Linked DNA regions of Homo sapiens: region 2 is linked to region 1. The links come from fine-mapping of genetic effects on gene expression. A gene starts in region 1. The other region holds a variant in brackets. All regions are shown on one strand. Distances are between the middles of the regions.

Evidence for each region.
Region 2: its variant is fine-mapped to the expression of PDGFDDN in ovary (GTEx, PIP 0.92).

What each region holds. Positions count from the first base shown.
Region 1 is chr11:103,901,138-103,912,584 of GRCh38, reverse strand. PDGFDDN (PDGFD downstream neighbor) reads left to right here and starts at 5,715. Exons shown (of 4, transcript XR_947960.3): 1 at 5,715-7,905. It overlaps PDGFD (platelet derived growth factor D), which reads left to right. Exons shown (of 7, transcript NM_025208.5): 7 at 2,766-5,396. The coding sequence ends at 2,891. RefSeq lists enhancers at 7,855-8,024, 8,445-8,534.
Region 2 is chr11:103,758,936-103,770,382 of GRCh38, reverse strand. No RefSeq gene overlaps it. Among named protein-coding and RNA genes, the nearest start is that of MIR4693, 85 kb to the left of the region's middle. The variant A/G (reference allele first, on the strand shown) is at 5,322.

The sequences.
Region 1 (11,447 bases):
ATTTTGCCCGTTAGTTGATGCACTTTCTTCATAGCATCAATGGTCTTTACAATTTGGGATGTTTTTGCAGTGGCTGGTACCAGTTGTTCCTTTCCATGTTGGTGCTTCCTTCAGGAGCTCTTGTAAGGCAGGCCTGGTGGTGACAAAAATCTGTCAGCATTTGCTTCTCTGTAGAGGATTTTATTTCTCCTTCACTTAGGAAGCTTGGTTTGGCTGGATATGAAATTCTGGGTTGAAAATTATTTTCTTTAAGAATGTGGAATATTGGCCCTCACTCTCTTCTGGCTTGTAGGGTTTCTGCCGGGAGATCCGCTGTTAGTCTGATTGGCTTCCCTTTGTGGGTAACCCAACCTTTCTCTCTGGCTGCCCTTAACATTTTTTCCTTCATTTCAACCTTGGTGAATCTGAAGATTATGTGTCTTGGGATTGTTCTTCTCGAGGAGTATCTTTATGGTGTTCTCCATATTTCCTGAATTTGAATGTTGGCCTGCCCTGATAGATGGGGAAATTCTCCTGGATAATACCCTGAAGAGTGTTTTCCAACTTGATTCCATTCTCCCCATCACTTTGGGGGACACCAATCAAATGTAGATTTGGTCTTTTCACATAGTCCCATAATTCTTGGAGGCTTTGTTTGTTTCTTTTCACTCTTTTTTCTGTAATCTTGTCTTCTCACTTTCTTTTATTAATTTGATCTTCAATCACTGATATCCTTTCTTCTGCTTGATCGATTTGGCTATTGAAGCTTGTGTATGCTTCATGAAGTTCTTGTCTTGCGTTTTTCAGCTCCATCAGGTCATTTATGTTCTTCTCTACACTGATTATTCTAGTTAGCAATTCATCTAACCTTTTTTCAAGGTTCTTAGCTTCCTTGCATTGGGTTAGAACATGCTCCTTTAGCTCGGAGGAGTTTGTTATTACCCACCTTCTGAAGCCTACTTCTGTCAATTCCTCAAACTCATTCTCCATCTGGTTTTGTTCCCTTGCTGGCGAGGAGTTGTGATCCTTTGGTTGAGAAGAGGAGTTCTGGTTTTTGGAATTTTCAGTGTTTCTGCACTGGTTTTTCCCCATCTTTTTGGTTTTATTTACCTTTGGTCTTTGATGTTGTTGACCTTCAGATGGGGTCTCTGAGTGGATGTCCTTTTTGTTAATGTTGATACTATTCCTTTCTGTTTGTTACTTTTCCTTCTAACAGTCAGGCCGCTCTGCTGCAGGTCTGCTGGAGTTTGCTGGAGGTCCACTCCAGACCCTGTCTCCTGTATGAAATGTCTATTGGCCCCTAATGGGAGATGTCTCCCAGTCAGGATACATGGGGGTCAGGGACCCACTTGAGGAGGCAGCCTGTCCCTTATCAGAGCTCAAATGCTGTGCTGGGAGATCCGCTGCTCTCTTCAGAGCCTCCAGGCAGGAATGTTTAAGTCTGAGAAGCTGCACCCACAGCCACCCCTTCCCCCAGGTTCTCTGTCCCAGGGAGATGGGGGTTTTATCTATAAGTCCCTGACTGGGGCTGCTGCCTTTCTTTCAGAGATGACCTGCCCAAAAAGGAGGAATCTAGAGAGGCAGTTTGGCCACAGCGGCCTTGCTGAGCTGCGGTGGGCTCCGCCCCATTCAAACTTCCCAGTAGCTTTGTTTACACTTTGAGGGTAAAACCGCCTCGCCTACTCAAGCCTCAGCAATGGCAGACGCCCCTCCCCTCACCAAGCTCAAGCATCCCAGGTCAATCTCAGACTGCTGTGCTGGCAGGAGAATTTCAAGCCAGTGGATCTTAGCTAGCTGGGCTCCATGGGGGTGGGACCCACTGAGCCAGACCACTTGGATCCCTGGAGTGAATGGTTCTGTCTTGCTGGCATTCCAGGCGCCACTGGGGTATGAAAAATAAACTGCTGCGGCTAGCTCGGTGTCTGTCCAAATGGCCGCCCAGTTTTGTGCTTGAAACCCAGGGCCCTGGTGGCATAGGCACTGGGGGAAATCTCCTGGTCTGCCAGTTGCAAAGACTATGGGAAAAGTGCAGTATCTGGACTAGAGTGCACCATTCCTCCTGGTACAGTCTCTCATGGCTTCCCTTGGCTGGGGGAAGGAGATCCCCCACCCCCTTGCACTTCGCGGCTGAGGGGACACCCCACCCTGCTTCAGCTCACCTTCCGTGGGCTGCACCCAATGTCTAACCAGTCCCAGTGAGATGAACTGGGTACCTCAGTTGGGAATGGAGAAATCACCCGCCTTCTGCATTGATCTCGCTGGGAACTGCAGACCAGAGCTGTTCCTGTTCGGCCATCTTGCCAGCAACTCCAGGGCAACATGTTTTACTTCAACCAAAGATTTAGATATACCAGCATATTTTATTCATGGTTGTATTCATTTTCCTCTCCATGCTAATAATATGCTCAAGTATTGTATTCATCTATAACACATGCCTTGGTCAGAAGGATCTTTACGATAATATTTGGAACAGTACTTGGCCCAAAGCAGGCCCTTAGAAAGCTATTAATAAATACCTGCTAAGACACATGAAATCATCTGGGTACTTCAGGTAAGTTATGCTGGGCATTACTCTGGGATCAATTGATTCCTCCACTTCAGGGAGTCAATTATTTGAAAAATGTGTACATTCTAATAGCAACGTGTGCATTCTAATAGCAAGCCCATAGCTTCTGTTGGGTTCTCAAAGGGCTAAGAACTAGTTGTCAAAAAGGTAATAAGTAGGTGGCATCTGACTGAGTTGAACTCCAAAGGCTTTCTAACAGGAGATGTGCTTCTTGTCCTAGGTATTACAGTTTGAGCCTGGCCACATCAAGAGGAGGGGTAGAGCTAAGACCATGGCTCTAGTTGACATCCAGTTGGATCACCATGAACGATGTGATTGTATCTGCAGCTCAAGACCACCTCGATAAGAGAATGTGCACATCCTTACATTAAGCCTGAAAGAACCTTTAGTTTAAGGAGGGTGAGATAAGAGACCCTTTTCCTACCAGCAACCAAACTTACTACTAGCCTGCAATGCAATGAACACAAGTGGTTGCTGAGTCTCAGCCTTGCTTTGTTAATGCCATGGCAAGTAGAAAGGTATATCATCAACTTCTATACCTAAGAATATAGGATTGCATTTAATAATAGTGTTTGAGGTTATATATGCACAAACACACACAGAAATATATTCATGTCTATGTGTATATAGATCAAATGTTTTTTTTGGTATATATAACCAGGTACACCAGAGCTTACATATGTTTGAGTTAGACTCTTAAAATCCTTTGCCAAAATAAGGGATGGTCAAATATATGAAACATGTCTTTAGAAAATTTAGGAGATAAATTTATTTTTAAATTTTGAAACACAAAACAATTTTGAATCTTGCTCTCTTAAAGAAAGCATCTTGTATATTAAAAATCAAAAGATGAGGCTTTCTTACATATACATCTTAGTTGATTATTAAAAAAGGAAAAATATGGTTTCCAGAGAAAAGGCCAATACCTAAGCATTTTTTCCATGAGAAGCACTGCATACTTACCTATGTGGACTATAATAACCTGTCTCCAAAACCATGCCATAATAATATAAGTGCTTTAGAAATTAAATCATTGTGTTTTTTATGCATTTTGCTGAGGCATGCTTATTCATTTAACACCTATCTCAAAAACTTACTTAGAAGGTTTTTTATTATAGTCCTACAAAAGACAATGTATAAGCTGTAACAGAATTTTGAATTGTTTTTCTTTGCAAAACCCCTCCACAAAAGCAAATCCTTTCAAGAATGGCATGGGCATTCTGTATGAACCTTTCCAGATGGTGTTCAGTGAAAGATGTGGGTAGTTGAGAACTTAAAAAGTGAACATTGAAACATCGACGTAACTGGAAATTAGGTGGGATATTTGATAGGATCCATATCTAATAATGGATTCGAACTCTCCAAACTACACCAATTAATTTAATGTATCTTGCTTTTGTGTTCCCGTCTTTTTGAAATATAGACATGGATTTATAATGGCATTTTATATTTGGCAGGCCATCATAGATTATTTACAACCTAAAAGCTTTTGTGTATCAAAAAAATCACATTTTATTAATGTAAATTTCTAATCGTATACTTGCTCACTGTTCTGATTTCCTGTTTCTGAACCAAGTAAAATCAGTCCTAGAGGCTATGGTTCTTAATCTATGGAGCTTGCTTTAAGAAGCCAGTTGTCAATTGTGGTAACACAAGTTTGGCCCTGCTGTCCTACTGTTTAATAGAAAACTGTTTTACATTGGTTAATGGTATTTAGAGTAATTTTTTCTCTCTGCCTCCTTTGTGTCTGTTTTAAAGGAGACTAACTCCAGGAGTAGGAAATGATTCATCATCCTCCAAAGCAAGAGGCTTAAGAGAGAAACACCGAAATTCAGATAGCTCAGGGACTGCTAACAGAGAACTACATTTTTCTTATTGCCTTGAAAGTTAAAAGGAAAGCAGATTTCTTCAGTGACTTTGTGGTCCTACTAACTACAACCAGTTTGGGTGACAGGGCTGGTAAAGTCCCAGTGTTAGATGAGTGACCTAAATATACTTAGATTTCTAAGTATGGTGCTCTCAGGTCCAAGTTCAACTATTCTTAAGCAGTGCAATTCTTCCCAGTTATTTGAGATGAAAGATCTCTGCTTATTGAAGATGTACCTTCTAAAACTTTCCTAAAAGTGTCTGATGTTTTTACTCAAGAGGGGAGTGGTAAAATTAAATACTCTATTGTTCAATTCTCTAAAATCCCAGAACACAATCAGAAATAGCTCAGGCAGACACTAATAATTAAGAACGCTCTTCCTCTTCATAACTGCTTTGCAAGTTTCCTGTGAAAACATCAGTTTCCTGTACCAAAGTCAAAATGAACGTTACATCACTCTAACCTGAACAGCTCACAATGTAGCTGTAAATATAAAAAATGAGAGTGTTCTACCCAGTTTTCAATAAACCTTCCAGGCTGCAATAACCAGCAAGGTTTTCAGTTAAAGCCCTATCTGCACTTTTTATTTATTAGCTGAAATGTAAGCAGGCATATTCACTCACTTTTCTTTGCCTTTCCTGAGAGTTTTATTAAAACTTCTCCCTTGGTTACCTGTTATCTTTTGCACTTCTAACATGTAGCCAATAAATCTATTTGATAGCCATCAAAGGAATAAAAAGCTGGCCGTACAAATTACATTTCAAAACAAACCCTAATAAATCCACATTTCCGCATGGCTCATTCACCTGGAATAATGCCTTTTATTGAATATGTTCTTATAGGGCAAAACACTTTCATAAGTAGAGTTTTTTATGTTTTTTGTCATATCGGTAACATGCAGCTTTTTCCTCTCATAGCATTTTCTATAGCGAATGTAATATGCCTCTTATCTTCATGAAAAATAAATATTGCTTTTGAACAAAACTACTCCATTATTTAGTACTCAATTGCAGTTTTAAAAGGTGTACACTGCTAAAAAAGAAAAAAAAAAAGAAAAGAAAACTTCCAGCTGGACGCGGGGGCTCAAGCCTGTAATCCTAGCACTTGGGGAGGCCGAGGGGGTGGATCACACGGAGATCGAGACCATCCTGGTCAACATGGCGAAACCCTGTCTCTACTAAAAATACAAAAATGAGCCAGGTGTGGTGGTGGGCGCCTTTAGTCCCAGCTACTCAGGAGATTGAGGCAGGAGAATCACTTGAACCGGGAGGCAGAGGTTGCAGTAAGCCGAGATCACGCCACTGCACTCCAGCCTGGGCTGCAGAACAAGACTCCTTTCAAAAAAAAAAAAAAGGAAAACTTTTTTTCACAAATGCATCAAACTGTTTGGAATGACAAGATTGAGTGATTTCTGAAGGCTTCATTTTATAATGCCCGAAAGAACAACACTTTGTTCCCCAATTACAGGCTTCTGTTCTGTCTTTGTCCTGCAGCTGCACAGTGGGGCAAGACTTGGGTTTGGTTTTGTTGCTGCTTTGTTGCTTCTTCATTTGACTGTTTCCCCATGAGTCTTATAATGAATTATGTTCTCCTCTGACATTGTTCCTCACCTAAGAAAATCCACAGCTGTCTCTTCCTTGAGGCCTGAAGTCAACAACATTACAACCTCATTTCCCTTTTATCCACCTCCTTTTCCCATCTGGGTGGACACCCCAGCCAACTAGTGATTCAGTGTTATCAGTTCAGACAGACCAGTTTAGGAGCTACACTCCTATATCATTTGCTTTGTAATTTGTGAAGAGGCACATAGCATAAAGAGAGCTCTTCTAGCTGCAATGCACATGCAAGAATTTTTGCTTTTGATTATAGCCTAATCTTTATATCATCCTGCTGGAGACAAAATAGCAGCTGCAGTGTTGAATGAAACTCTGCCATTTTAGTGGTTTTAGGTCATTTGGGGAATGGGAGTAAAGACCTGTATTCTGTGGCAAGAATTAATTTTACCATCAGAAATACTAGCTAGTGTGTGAGCATGGGAGAGGGATGGGGACAGGGTCGAATAATTCTGTGCCTAATAGCTAATTCAAGTAACTGGGGTTTTTAGGTAAAAAGTCATAATAGTAATATATATATGTATATATATGTGAATATATGTGTATATATGTATGTATATATGTTGCATTTTAATACAAAGACATTAAGAATTTTATTTCATTTCCTGAAATGTTCACATGTCCAGTTTTATTCTGAGAATAACTCAACAGATGTCTAAATTGTTGATACTCTCCTAGGTTCCTCATAGAATATTAAATTAAAATTCAATAGATTAGTATTCATGCCTGAAGTCCTAGGAAATATAATTTTGTTTATTGGCAGCCCTAGTCAAACATGCTAGAAGACAGAATATTTATAATTCACTGGTTTTATTGACATTCACTCAAATTCTGTTGTTTTTAAAGATCAAGTTAAAGACTACACAGACCTTCAAAACTTAGCATAGCACAACTGGGATATCTCTCAAATAAAATAGGCATCAACAAGGGATAAGCAACTAACCACTTAATGTAAGACTTTATGCTTGCTTTTCCAGTTATATTTCTGAATTTTGCAAACTAATTTGTGTCCTTTTTTTGAATAAATTTCATTTCTATAGAGATGTCTAAAAATTATTTAGCAGACTACATTAAAAGAGAGTGGAGCTAACTTCTTAACATAGGTTAATATACTCAGTGCAACAAGCTGTGGACCAAGAAATCTTCATTTTCTAGCAAAATCATTTGACTTTGTGATTATTTTAAACTGTTTATACTTATTGCCAGGTTTAGTGACCAGAAACCAAATGTTAAAATCATTCTTGGATTCAATTTACATTTTAAATAATACCTACAATACAAGTTCCCTTTTAAGAACTAAGGTCTCTAACCTGTTTCTGGTTGAGGTCATAGTATAAATTTCTCCTCTTCAGGCCTTCTAGTGTCTTTCTAGACTTTCCTTTCTCCCTGTGTCTCCCACAGGCTTCCTTTCTCACCTGCCTCTACTTGTCAGTCTTCAAATCAGAGAAAATCAGGATCAATATCTGCTTTGGGAAAGACAGGAGATAGATCAGTCGAGGAGATCAACTGCATGGTTACCCAAGTGAGCAATTAATAGGGTAAAATTCCCAACTGCTTTAAGAAATCACTGCTTTTTGAGAGTCAAACACATCAGGTGCATATTTTTCAGTACTGTCCACTTTGGTGCAAACTTCAGGATATGGTGGTAGATATTTGTTGACTTCTGTCAATAGAAATTTAGCCACAGTCAATATGGGGAAAATTGACTAAATTACATGTTTCATTCATTCATTCAACAGCAAATACATTAAAGCCCGCTATGTATCAGACATGCTTTGAGGCTTGAAACACAAGATTCACAACAGAGGATAAAACTAGAGAAAGATATTCTAGGTAAGATCAACAGGAAGAACAAAGGTCTCCCAGCAAAAATGCATAAGGTAAGTGTGGGCAGTTCAGAAAATATAAAGTGATCGAAAGGAAAGAAAAGGAAACTGTAGGCAAATGAATTTAGTCTTTTACATTTAGTAAAGGAAGCTCCATGAGGACCTCTGAGCACAGTGGGGGCTGTATGTGTCATAGAGCACCAGACAGAAAGTTAGAAGGTCTTGGTTGTAGTGACTAGCCTGCCACTTTCTAAACCTATGTTTCCTCATTTACACACTCAGATATGTAAGATGTTCTGGAGGTGTCTTCCGGCAGAACAATTCTGCAATTCTGCATTTTCGAAAATGGGTCTACAGAAAGAGTAGGGATTGGGCTATGAGTTATGAGGCTCCTTGAAGTTCTAGGGGTGAGACAATAAGGATAAAGCGAGACTTCAGAGACAGGAAGGGAAGTTTGCCCCTGTGGTTGTTCAGGCTGTGCACTACAAATCTCTAGGGGTTGCTATTTGCATGAACTAAGATGACAAGACAGGTTAAGAGGTTTCAAAGTTCTTTGTGGTTGGATGGGCTGGAGGTGCAGGCTTGGAGATCTCCTGTAGGAAGAAGTCATGTGAGTTCAAGAGAATTCTTGTGGGAAAACCAGGGAGGCAGGAAGGAGGGGTGAATTTTGCAAGCATGTCTCCAAGAAGAGGAGCCAGGTCTTGTAACATTGAAAGGGAGTCATTCTCAGGGTCAAAGCTGAAACCATAAGAAGATACACAGAACCTGAAAGACCTCCATAACCATTAAGAGGGAAGAAGACTAGTTTCTAAAGCTCATAAAAATGTGTTCTGAAAAGGTATTAAGTACTGACTGAGGGCTAAAGGTCCAGCCCTGTGCTAAATACAGCAGATTCACAGGAAAATAAAACAAACGTATTTCCTGCCTTTATCAAGCTAGAGAAGACATTACATGAGGCTAGAGAAGACTAGACACTAAACAAATAATTACATATGTAACCCAATACATTTGTGAAAAGCAAAAGCATAATGTGTGATGACAGTAAAAGGTGGAATCCAGATCAGAGGACAAGGAAGGGTTCTGTGAGAAGATGACATTAGAGCAGGAACAGAAAGTTGAATAAATGTTAGAAGCAAAGTGAAAGGAGAGTGTGACATTAAATGGTAGCAATAAAAATGAAAAAAAATCTAGCTATATTAAAGAAATAGTTTGAATCTTTAATTTATCAGAGTTGGGGATATATTAGACTGAGGCAAAAGAAGATAGAAGATAGCAAGGATTTTTCCAAGGCTTCTGGCATAACAAACTGTGCAGATAGAGGTGCCATTTATTGAGATGGGGGACATGCAAAGAGAAGGAGATTTAGGATAGATTAAGAATTCAGTGTGAGGTATTAATTCCAAGTGACATTTGATATATCCAATTGGAGATATTAAGTAGGCAGTTAGGTCTGTGGGTCTGGAGCTAAGAAGAAGGGTCTGAGACAGATGTAAATTTAGAAGTCAGCAATATACAGTGGTATTACAAAACACAGGAACAGTCCAGATACTTAGGGGAGGGTGAAAACTGAAAGGGGAAGAATCACAGGGCAATTGTGAGAATATAAAAATGTTCTAAGTGCCAGAGGAAGAAATTGTTGCAAAGAGTCTGGGTCAGTTTTATCGACTATGGCAGAGAAGGTATGAGAAACACCTACAGATTTATCTGCTCAGAAATACTCCTTTCTTTTATTTTTATTTTTATTATACTTTAAGTTTTAGGGTACATGTGCACAACGTGCAGGTTTGTTACATACGTATACATGTGCCATGTTGGTGTGCTGCACCCATTAACTCATCATTAACATTAGGTATATCTCCTAATGCTATCCCTCCCCCCTTCCCCCACCCCACAACAGGCCCCAGTGTGTGATGTTCCCCTTCCTGTGTCCATGTGTTCTCACTGTTCAATTCCCACCTATGAGTGAGAACATGCGGTGTTTGATGTTTTGTCCTTGCGATAGTTTGCTGAGAATGATGGTTTCCAGCTTCATCCATGTCCCTACAAAGGACATGAACTCATCATTTTTTATGGCTGCATAGTATTCCATGGTGTATATGTGCCACATTTTCTTAATCCAGTCCATCATTGTTGGACATTCAGGTTGGTTCCAAGTCTTTGCTATTGTGAATAGTGCCGCAATAGACATACATGTGGATGTGTCTTTATAGCAGCATGATTTATAATCTTTTGGGTATATACCCAGTAATGGGATGGCTGGGTCAAATGGTAAGAAATACTCCTTTCTAACCCTAATCTCTTTTCTGAGAGATTCCTCTTCATCTATAGCAGTATTGTCCAATAGAACTTCTTGCGATGATGGAGATGTTCTATATCTGTTCTAAGAGAGCAGCTAATAGCCACACTTGGCTGCTGAGCACTGGAAGCATGACCAGTGTGGCTGAAGATTTTTAAATTTTATTTAATTTTACTTAATATTTAAATATAAATTGCCACATGTGACAAGTGGCTACTGTATTAGGCTATGCAGTTGTAGATTTAATTATCACCCAGAGTTGTAGCCAGAATACTACACACTTCACAGTACCACACACACGTTCTAGTCACAGCCAGGGGCACCTGACTCAAGCTTTCTCAGGATGTATGGGCCTGAGGAGAGATTCAGACAGTCTCCTTGGTTATTTGGATGGTAGGATGTGAAAATCAATGGCTATTGGCAGCCATACTCTCTGCCATGTAGACTAAATATCTAGAGAAAGTTAAACTATAAAGGAAAAGAAGGAAGAAAGACACAAACACACAGAAAGTCCTGAGGGAGTCCCTCCTTCTCATTAGTTCTGATGTCTGGCCAAACCCGTCTCTGGTTCTCTGAGAATGTCATATGGTGGAAATGTGAGTCAGATGATAAGATATTTGGAGGGAGGAATTGTGATTACATGAAAATGCTGAGTGAAAACCACTATCTCAAGGAGTTGATAGGTGAGTGAAAAGAGAACTGCAGTTAGCCCTTTATATCCACAGGTTCCACATCTATAGATTCAACCAACAGCAGATGAAAGATATTTGGAAACATGAAAAATATAATACAACTATAAAAATAATAAAAACTGGCCAAGTTCAGTGGCTCACACCTGTAATCCCAACAATTTGGGAGGCCAAGGCAGGCGGATCACTTGAGGTCAGAAGTTTGAGACCAGCCTGGCCAACATGGTGAAACCCTGTCTCTACTAAAAACACAAAAATTAGGCATGGTGGTGCACTCCTGTAGCCCCTGCTACTCAGGAGGGCGAGGCACGAGAATCTCTTGAACCAGGAAGCAGAGGCTGCAGTGAGCAAGATTGCTCCACTGCACTACAGCCTGGGTGACAGAGCAAGACTCCATCTCAAAAATAAATAAAATAATTAATTAATTTAATTAAATAATAATTAAAACAGCACAGTATAACAACTATTTACATGGTATTTATATTGTGCTAGGTGTTATAAGTAATCCAGAGATGATTTAAATCGTATGGGAGGATGTGCATAGGTTATAGTAAACACTGCGCCATTTTAGATAAGGGACTTGAGCATCCCCAGATTTTGGTATCCTCAGG
Region 2 (11,447 bases), 140 kb after region 1:
TAAGTACTTAAAAATGAAAAAAAAAAAATCCTAGTTTGTGGGAGGTACAAAAACAGGTGGCAAGCCAGATTTGGCCCATGAGTTATAGTTTTCCAACTTGTGACCTATAATAGTAAATATCACGAAAGTTGGAACCTTGCTTATTTTTTTAATGGTATATCTTCAGACTTAGACTGATGTGTGACATATATATAGCAGCAGCTCAGAAACATATTTGTTAAAAGAATAAATTGATTAATGAATGAAGTAAGCAATTTCAAAGGAACACTTTACAAGTGAAATTGCAGATCTTCAGCTAAATTGAAGATCAGCTTCCTGGGTGAGCAACCTGGGCAGTCACAGAGGGCCCTGCAGTCAGAAGGGCCTCGTGCATGGTTTAATGCTCTGCTGTCCCTGTCTTGAAATGTTTAATACTTTTTGAAGAAGGAGTCCCATGTTTTCCTTGGGCACTGGGCCCCACAAATTATGCATCCAGTCTTAAACTTCTACATGCAATAACCAGGTGTGTAACACTAATATTCCTAATCCAGCAACAGCTAGAATGGGGACCCTGTGTGCTGCTAGTACAGAGTAGAATCTATTTCCAAAAAACGATCCTGGCAAAAAGTAGGCAGGAGACTAAATTTCCAAGCCAGTGGTAGAGGGTGTAGGTGGGTCCTGGCTTAGGGGACAGAAGAAGAATGTCAGGGTTTAGGCATACAGAGATTTGGCAGGGTGAAACAGTTGTCGGAGACCTTACTTGGGTTCCTTAGTTCTACACCTCCTCTGATTGAAATAAGGTAGGAAATAAGATGTTATACATTTATCTATTCATGTGCTTTCTTTTTCCTATAGATCCCCTGCCTTTGCTACGAATGATGCCAGAATGAGAACTATCCTGACTACCTCATGAGATTATTATAAGGCTGATTTAGATAATAATTAAATAATAGTTATGTAAGATAATGATTGTAAAGCTAAAGTATGCTACCACTTTTAGGACACTAATGAGACTAATGCATTTTGCTAAGCATTTTGCATGCATCATGTCACTCAATCCACACAACAACCAAACAGTAGGTCCGATTATGCTTCCATATAACCACTGAACAAATATAAAGCTCAGAGTGGTTATGTAACTTAATCTAGTAACATAGCTAGAAGTGGCAGACCTCAAATACAAGCTCGTGTCTCTGACTCCCAATTCATGTCTGTGATATGAATATCAATGATAAATCATGATGTTAATGTGGGATAGGAGATTTTATTGCTACTGCCTGGGGAGGGAACAGAAATGCCACTTATCTGCTAATCACCCTATGGAAAGAATAATAAAGCATGGAATGAACAAGCAAATAGCAAGAGCTCTTCAAAGAAAGTTGTCATTAACACTTTACAGAGAATAGAGGTAGGCTCCCCCAGGAAAAGTTTGCATAAATAGCCCTGGAGCAGCTGAGAAAGAGGAAATGAATGACATTCAATTAACTCCTAATTTGCTGTTGCAGTTTCTCCTGAACTGAGTTCACTCCAGAATTTACCAAGGGATCAGGCTGCTTAAGAACTAATTACAATGAATTCTCCATGAGCCTGCTGACAGTCTGTCCTTTCTATGTAAGTCCTGGGGTTGTTGCCAGCCAAAAAACCTTAGGCAAAGTTGTCTTCTTTTAGTAAAGGTTTTCCAGCCTCCCTTTAATTTTTACCAAGAAAAGCACAGCATATCAAGGCGTTAGACAGCTTTATTATTTCTCTTAATGTCAAGTTATCAAACCCCTTAGAAGCCTGGAGAGAGAGGCAGGTCATGGTGGCTCACACCTGCAATCCCAGCATTTTGGGAGGCCTAAATGGGCAGATGACTCGAGGCCAGGAGTTCAAGACCAGCCTGGCCAACATGTTGAAACCCTGTCTCTACTAAACATACAAAAATTAGCTGGGCCTGGTGGCGCATGCCCATAATCCCAGCTACTCAGGAGGCTGAGGCAGGAGAATCACTTGAACCTGAGAGGTGGAGGTTGAGTGAGCCGAGTTCATGCAGCCTGGGTGACAGAATAAGGCTCCATCTCAAAAAATAATAATAAAAGGACTCGAGGAGGACATAGGCTTGGTTCTATAAAGGAGAATTGTCTTGTTTCTTCAGTATCTTGGAATAAATTTGCTGGGACATCTGGGAAAAGCATTTCACTTCTTAGGGATTCATAAAAAATAAGGTGGCCTGTAAACTATGTGCTTAATGAGGAAGGGTGGCAGTACACAGAGTACAGGCAAATTATGTTGTCTACCTGTAGACCCTGTCCTCCCTTAGCTCAGTCCTCCACAGTCATGACACAAAGTGTACACCCATTCTCTCCCAAACTCATTTCCTGGCTAATCAGGCTATCACCTTCTCTGGCCTATCTTGTGCCTGTTAATTTGCACTCCTCACACTTTCCTCTTGCTGCCCTTCTTGACTGCTTTTCCAAAGTTATTCCCCACATTGCTACTTCCCCCCACAACTTCCATGCCTCACCAGGAAGCTGGCATCTCCAACGATGGTGCTTTCCTTACAGCCTTTTCAATGGCTATGGCTTCAGTTTCCATACTCCCTCTGTGTTGGGGGTGTCTGTCCTACTGGAATCTCACTGTGACTTCCAGACCATTGCTTTCCACACTCCTTCACCTTCACCCTCATTGTGAGATCAACCAATGATCCCCCTACCCATTTTTGTTCCAAGCCCCCTTCTAACCTACTGCTCACTCTCTCTATATATTCAAGAATTACATGTTTGAAGAAGTCAGTCTTCTTCTCCATCATCCTATATTATGTCAGTGTTCAACTGAATGAGATCACTTATGCCCAAATTCTTGCTATGGGCTAGAAATGCACAAGGTACATAAGGCTCACCCATGAAAGTTGTTAAAAATTCAAAATCCCTTGATTCACCCCAAACATTCTGAAAGAATCTTTTGGGATGGAGATTTAAAAGATGCTCTCTAGATAATTCTGCCCCACAGGCAGGCTTGGAAACCAATAGACTAGGCCAAACCCATAAAGGGCAGGAACGCTACTTTACCTTTGTATCTTCAGATGTAATAATAATAGCCAGAAATGGCTATTTAGGACAGGACACAATTCTATTGCATGGCAGGGACTCACTAAATGTGTGTTGAACTCAACTGAGTTGGGGAAATGAATGATATAACCAGAAGAACCCTAAGCTCACAATCCATTGATTTTATTTTTCATTTTGCCCTCTTCAGTTTAGAAATCTAGTAACATGACCATAGCCTGTATCTTTTCATTCCTTGGAAATACACCATCTTTAAATTCTTCAACTGAAAAAATTTCACTTACTAGACTTGACTCTCTAGTTTCACTTAGCAGTCATCTTTGAGACTTTTAAATTGAGTTGGTTCAGACCCACCCATTCCTGGTCTAATCCTGACCTGTGACTAGGAGCCTTCATTCCACCTATGAATGGAATGAGTTGTTTTGCTCTAGACCCAAGATTCTGAGTGCCTGGAGACAGGTCTGTGACTTGGAGGGTTCTATTACAGAGTCATGGCAGACACAATCTCTAGTAAAGCAAAATTTCCAATAATAGCCTTTACTATTTTGATCTTGTTCACATATAAGAACACCTGCTTCAGTTTCCCCTTTTGGTATCAAGATTCACCATGAGGCCTTAAGCAAATCCCTTGATCCTCACCAGATGGTAAATTGCCTCACTCATAAAAATGGCTATTATTTTTCCAAGAGCAATTATAGCAAAAGCAAAAATTGACAAATGAGATCTAATTATAAAAAGCTTCTGCAGAGCAAAAGAAACTATCAACAGAGTAAACAGACAACCTACAGAATGGGAGAAGATATTGGCAAACTATACGTCTGACAAAGGTCTGATATCCAGAATCTGTAAGGAACTTAAACACATTTACAAGCAAAAATCAAACAACCCCATTAAAAAGTAGACAAAGGACATGAACAGAGACTTTTCAAAAGAAGACATACATGCAGCCAACAAACATATGAAAATCTCTCAATATCACTAGAGAAATGCAAATCAAAACTGCAATGAAATACCATCTCACGCCTGTCAGAATGGCTATTTTTAAAAAGTCAAAAAATAACAGATGATGGTGACATTGCAGAGAAAAGGGAACGTTTATACACTGCTGATGGGAATGTAAATTAGTTCCACCATTTTGGAAAGCAGTGTAGTGATTCCTTAAAGAACTAAAAACAGAACTATCACTTGGCCCAGAAATCCCATTACTGGTTACATACCCAAAGAAATATAAATCATTCTACCATTAAGATACATGCACACGTATGTTCACTGGAGCACTATTCACAAGAGCAAAGACACAGAATCAACCTAAATGCCCATCAACAGTAGACTGGATAAAGAAATGCAGTACATATACATTATGAAATATTATGCAGCCATAAAAAAAGAACAAGATCATGTCCCCTGCAGGAATATGGATGAAGCTAGAGGCCATTATCCTTAGCAAACTAGTGTAGGAACAGAAAAACCAAATATCACATGCTCTCATTTATAAGCAGGAGCTAAATAATGAGAACCAATGGGCACAAAGAAGAGAACAACAGACACTGGAGCCTACTTGAGGGAGGAGGATGGCAGGAGGGAGAGGATCAGGAAAAATAACTGTCAGGTACTTTGCTTAGTACCTGGGTGACAATATATTTATATATATTTATTTATATATTTATATATATAAATATATATATATGGCTATTATTTTTTCATTAATGTTGTCAGGATTAATTGAGAGATTTGTGAAACCAAGATGCACAGTGCCTGGTGTATAGCAAGTGCCCAATACATGTTTACTGGCATGCCTGTCTTCCTTCCTTCCTTCCTCTCTTCTTTCCTTCCTTTCTTCTACCTTGTTTCTTTCTCCCTCGCATTTGAGGTCATTTCTAAAATATAAATATTATCATGATTGCTATACACAATAAGTTCATTTGTCATTTGTCATTGTTAACTTACAGTTAAGCAATACTGTAAGTAGGTATAACATTGGCCAAGATATTTTGGAATTATTTATTCATACAAAAATTATTACTAAAGAGAAAAAATTATTACTAAATTATTACTACAAAAATGTTATAACTAATACATTTTAGTAAAAAATTATTACTAAAGAGAAAAAATTCATAAAAGTAGAATTAACCTAATGTTAATTGCCCCTGACCAGAGAGAGGTGAAGCCATATTTAGATCTGGAGGAAGAAATAGAGAAAAGAGAAATAATTAGGTTGAAAACTGCTTCTTACTAAATCATAACTGTGCTTAAAATATTGGCAACTAGGGACAAAACCAAAGGCCTGTGCTCCTAGCC[A/G]CCATCCTAAGTCCTGCAAGCATGGATCTCTATCAGAAGTAAGGATTTGGGAAGTTGAAGGGCAATGATTAGGTGACAGTGCCAGTGATGGCATCTGCCTCTCTCTCAGGGATTCACTCTTACTTGACAAAACAAGATATTTTAAAAATTATCTTTTCCATTCTCTGTCTCTTCCCTCCCAGTAAAGCAAAATGGTGCAAATGGTAGCCAGGGACACTGGAAGCAACTTCTTCACCTTTCCATTTCATTCTTTGTTGTACTTTCACAATGCACCTCTTCTGGGACTATTCCCATAACTAGCTATGCTGTAGGTCCTGGACAAACTTTTTCTCTCAACATTTATCTGTTTTGGCCTTTTCTGTGCTATTCTGGGAGTGTTCTGGATTTGTCTTTTTTTCCATACATCAATAGTGAAATTTAAGATTCCTGTGTGATCTTATAATTAATCAAGTTGGAAACCATGGCCTTCTTTGGTTCTAGGTAGTTAACCCTAGTTAGATAAGGAAGAATGTGTCTTTCCTGTATTCTAGCCTCTCTTATTAAAGTTCAACTTAAAGATCTGGGACCAAATCTCTAATTAATAACAAAATATCACCTTTACTTTCTTTTTCTCCCCTGGGCACGAATCTCCTTCAGGAACCTCTTATACAGGAAGGAAGATTAAAACAAGGCAAGACTTGGGTATTCCTGAGTCTTCTTTCTATCACTGTGTTAATGCCATGTCAAGATACCATCTTTTAGTATCACGTTTACAATTTTACCTCAAATTTTATGTCTTTACTGGAAACTCTATAACATAAACAATACTGTAAGTAGGTATAACATTGGCCAAGATATTTTGGAATTATTTATTCATACAAAAATTATTACTAAAGAGAAAAAATTATTACTAAATTATTACTACAAAAATTTTATAACTAATACATTTTAGTAAAAAATTATTACTAAAGAGAAAAAATTCATAAAAGTAGAATTGCAACTTCTGGATAAAGAAGACAGTTTGACTATAGCGTTAACTTTGCCCTCTAAAATCTCACTAAAATGACTATAAAAGAAAAAATAATGTCAGAGGATAAGAAATCATAAAATAAATATTTTATACTATGTAAAATAAAAATTTAAAGGGAATATTTTCCCAAATTACAGGACAAGAATTTCCAGATTTAAGGAACCCATTGTTTGCTCAACTCAGTGAATAAACATAAACCCATACTGAGCCACATCATCATGAAGTTTCCAAACAACAGGGAAAAGAAGAAAACTCCTTCAAAGAGCAAAAAATAGGCCCCAGGCAAATGATCAGGAATTAAAATGACTTCAGACTTCTTAATAGCACACTCAAATATTAGAAGGCAGTAGGTAAATGCCTTCAAATTCTGAAAGAAAATTATTTTTAAACTAGAATTCTATAGCCAGCCAAATTTTTAATCAGGTTGATGAGTAGAATACATAATTTTTGAGGAATGCAAAGTCTCCAACAAAATTGCCTTCCTGAATCCTTTCTCAGAAAGTTAATAGAGAATGTGTTCCATCCCAGGAAATTAAGTGGAAAGACAATAAGTGGGAGACATAGGATATAGAAAAGAAAAAATACAACATAGGCAAGAAGGCAGAGAATCTTCTGGATTATCATGAGAATTCCCAGAATGGCAGCTCAGCCTCAAGCCCAAAGACAAAGCCAGGATGGAGCAGGTCGGGAGAAACTGTTCTGGGAAGTAAAATTTAATCAACATCTCTAAATATTTTCAGAGGAGCTTAGCAAGGAGTAGGGGAGTGGATAAGTAACTTGTCTGTGGGAAAATAAGCAAAAATAAACAAAACGGGCAAAAAATTGTTAACTAAAGGGAAGATTAAAGGTGTTAGCGAAGTAGCAATGCAAACATCTTTTTAAGAGACCTAATCAACTAAAAGAGAAGAAAGTGGTTGCTCCTGGGAAGAGGTAAGTAGGGGAAAGACAGTTGTGCTATTTTCTTTTTTTAAACAATCTTGTAGAGTGAATTGACACTTTATGTGCCTATATAATAAAAAATTTTAAACTTAAACCAAAATATACTATATATTTCAATAAGAAGCCCAGTCCCAGAGTAGACAAGGAAAGTTCCAGGTATACTTGTGGTGTCACATTCTGAGCTGTCCTTGCTGGTACTTTCCTATCTGGTAACTAAAGGTTCCCCCATTTCAGCAAGGGATATTTATGAAAGTTATTGGGACTTCCAATGATAACTTATATAGTATTTGAATTATAACAAGTGTCTTAAAGTATGCACGCTTAATATTTTAAAAAATCACTTTGATATGAAAAATAATAAAACATTTTCACATATTTATAAATATATAAAATATTTATTAAAAATACCCAAAAATCTGGTACCAAAGTAGTCTTTCCCAGGAAGAGGAATTAAGAGGATAGGGCCTGGGAAGGAAGAGACTTCTTTTTCTTTTTTTTTCTTTTCATTTATTTATTTTATATATATATATTTTTTATTATACTCTAAGTTCTAGGGTACATGTGCACAACGTGCAGGTTTGTTACATATGTACACATGTACCACGTTGGTGTGCTGCACCCATTAACCCGTCATTTACATTAGGTATATCTCCTAATGCTATCCCTCCCCTCTACCCCAACCCCACAACAGGCCCCAATGTGTGATGTTCCCCTTCCTGTGTCCAAGTGTTCTCATTGTTCAATTCCCACCTGTGAGTGAGAACATGCGGTGTTTGGTTTTTTCTCCTTGCGATAGTTTGCTGAGAATGATGGTTTCCAGCTTCATCCATGTCCCTACAAAGGACATGAACTCATCATTTTTATGGCTGCCTAGTATTCCATGGTGTATATGTGCCACATTTTCTTAATCCAGTCTATCATTGTTGGACATTTGGGTTGGTTCCAAGTCTTTGCTATTGTGAATAGTGCCGCAATAAACATACGTGTGCATATGACTTTATAGCAGCATGATTTATAGTCCTTTGGGTATATACCCAGTAATGGGATGGCTGGATCAAATGGTATTTCTAGTTCTAGATCCCTGAGGAATCGCCACACTGACTTCCACAATGGTTGAACTAGTTTACAGTCCCACCAACAGTGTAAAAGTGTTCCTATTTCTCCACATCCTCTCCAGCACCTGTTGTTTCCTGACTTTTTAATGATTGCCATTCTAACTGGTGGGAGATGGTATCTCATTGTGGTTTTGATTTGCATTTCTCTGATGGCCAGTGATGATGAGCATTTTTTCATGTGTCTGTTGGCTGCATAAATGTCTTCTTTTGAGAAGTGTCTGTTCATATCCTTCCCCAATTTTTGATGGAGTTGTTTGTTTTTTTTTTCTTGTAAATTTGTTTGAGTTCTTTGTAGATTCTGGATATTAGCCCTTTGTCGGATGACTAGATTGGAAAATTTTCTCCCATTCTGTAGGTTGCCTGTTCACTCTGATGGTAGTTTCTTCTGCTGTGCAGAAGCTCTTTAGTTTAATTAGATCCCATTTGTCAATTTTGGCTTTTGTTGCCATTGCTTTTGGTGTTTTAGACATGAAGTCCTTGCCCATGCCTATGTCCTGAATGGTATTGCCTAGGTTATCTTCTAGGGTTTTTATGGTTTTAGGTCTAAGATTTAAGTCTTTAATCCATCTTGAATTAATTTTTGTATAAGGTATAAGGAAGGGATCCAGTTTCAGCCTTCTACATATGACTACCCAATTTTCCCAGCACCATTTGTTAAATAGGGAATAGTTTACCTATTTCTTATTTTTGTCAGGTTTGTCAAAGATCAGATGGTTGTAGATGTGTGGTATTATTTCTAAGGGCTCTGTCCTGTTCCATTGGTCTATATCTCTGTTTTGATACCAGTACCATGCTGTTTTGGTTACTGTAGCCTTGTAGTATAGTTTGAAGTCAGGTAGTGTGATGCCTCCAGCTTTGTTCTTTTGGCTTAGGATTTACTTGGCAATGCAGGCTCTTTTTTGGTTCCATATGAACTTTAAAGTAGTTTTTTCCAATTCTGTGAAGAAAATCATCAGTAGCTTGATGGGGATGGCATTGAATCTATAAATTATCTTGGGCAGTATAGCCATTTTCACGATATTGATTCTTCCTATCCATGAGCATGGAGTATTCTTCCATTTGTTTGTATCCTCTTTTATTTTGTTGAGCAGTGGTTTGTAGTTCTTGAAGAGGTCCTTCACATCCCTTGTAAGTTGGATTCCTAGGTATTTTATTCTCTTTGAAGCAATTGTGAATGGGAGTTCACTCATGATTTGGCTCTCTGTTTGTCTGTTATTGGTGTATGAGAATGCTTGTGATTTTTGGACATTGATTTTGTATCCTGAGACTTTGCTGAAGTTGCTTATCAGCTTAAGGAGATTTTGGGCTGAGACGATGGGGTTTTCTAGATATACAATCATGTCATCTGCAAACAGGGACAATTTGACTTCCTCTTTTCCTAATTGAATACCCTTTATTTCTTCCTCCTGCCTGATTGCCCTGACCAGAACTTCCAACACTATGTTGAATAGGAGTGGTGAGAGAGGGCATCCCTGTCTCGTGCCAGTTTTCAAAGGGAATGCTTCCAGTTTTTGCCCATTCAGTATGATATTGGCTGTGGGTTTGTCATAAATAGCTCTTATTATTTTGAGATACGTGCCATCAATACCTAATTTATTTAGAGTTTTTAGCATGAGGAGCTGTTGAATTTTGTAAAAGGCCTTTTCTGCATGTATTGAGATAATCATGTGGTTTTTGTCTTTGGTTGTGTTTATATGCTGGATTACATTTATTGATTTGCATATGTTGAACCAGCCTTGCATCCCAGGGATGAAGCCCACTTGATCATGGTGGATAAGCTTTTTGATGTGCTGCTGGATTCTGTTTGCCAGTATTTTATTGAGGATTTTTGCGTTGATGGTTCATCAAGGATATTAGTCTAAAATTCTCTTTTTTTGTTGTGTCTCTGCCAGGCTTTGGCATCAGGGTGATGCTGTCCTCAGAAAATGAGTTAGGGAGGATTCCCTCTTTTTCTCTTTTTCTCTTTTTTTTTTTTTTTTTTTTGAGATGGAGTCTCACTCTGTTGCCCAGGCTGGAGTGCAGTGGCGCAATCTCGGCTCCCTGCAAGCTCCGCCTCCTGGGTTCACACCATTCTCCTGCCTCAGCCTCCCGAGTACTTGGGACCACAGGCGCCCGCCACCACGCCTGGCTAATTTTTTGTATTTTTTAGTAGAGACAGGGTTTCACCGTGTTAGCCAGGATGGTCTCGATCTCCTGACCTCATGATCCACCCACCTCGGCCTCCCAAAGTGCTGGGATTACAGGCGTGAGCCACTGCACCCGGCCGATTCCCTCTTTTTCTATTGATTGGAATAGTTTCAGAAGGAATGGCAGCAGCTCCTCCTTGTACCTCTGGTAGAATTCAGCTGTGAATCCGTCTGGTCCTGGACTTTTTTTGGATGGTAAGCTATTAATTATTACCTCAATTTCAGAGCCTGTTATTGGTCTATTCAGAGATTCAACTTCTTCCTGATTTAGTCTTGGGAGGGTGTATGTGTCAAGGAATTTATCCATTTCTTCTAGATTTTCTAGTTTATTTGCATAGAGGTGTTTATAGTATTCTCCGATGGTAGTTTGTATTTCTGTGGGATCGGTGGTGACATCCACTTTATCATTTTTTATTGCATCTATTTGATTCTTCTCTCTTTTCTTCTTTATTAGTCTTGCTAGTGGTCTATCAATTTTGTTGATCTTTTCAAGAAACCAGCTCCTGGATTCATTGCTTTTTTGAAGGGTTTTTTGTGTCTCTATTTCCTTCAGTTCTGCTCTGATCTTAGTTATTTCTTGCCTTCTGCTAGCTTTTGAATGTGTTTGCTCTTGCTTCTCTAGTTCTTTTAATTGTGAAGTTAGGGTGTCAATTTTCGATCTTTCCTGCTTTCTCTTGTGAGCATTTAGTGCTATAAATTTTCCTCTGCACACTGCTTTAAATGTGTCCCAGAGATTCTGGTATGTTGTATCTTTGTTCTCATTGGTTTCAAAGAACATCTTTATTTCTGCCTTCATTTCATTATGTGCCGAGTAGTCATTCAGGAGCAGGTTGTTCAGTTTCCATGTAGTTGAGCGGTTTTGAGTGAGTTTCTTAAT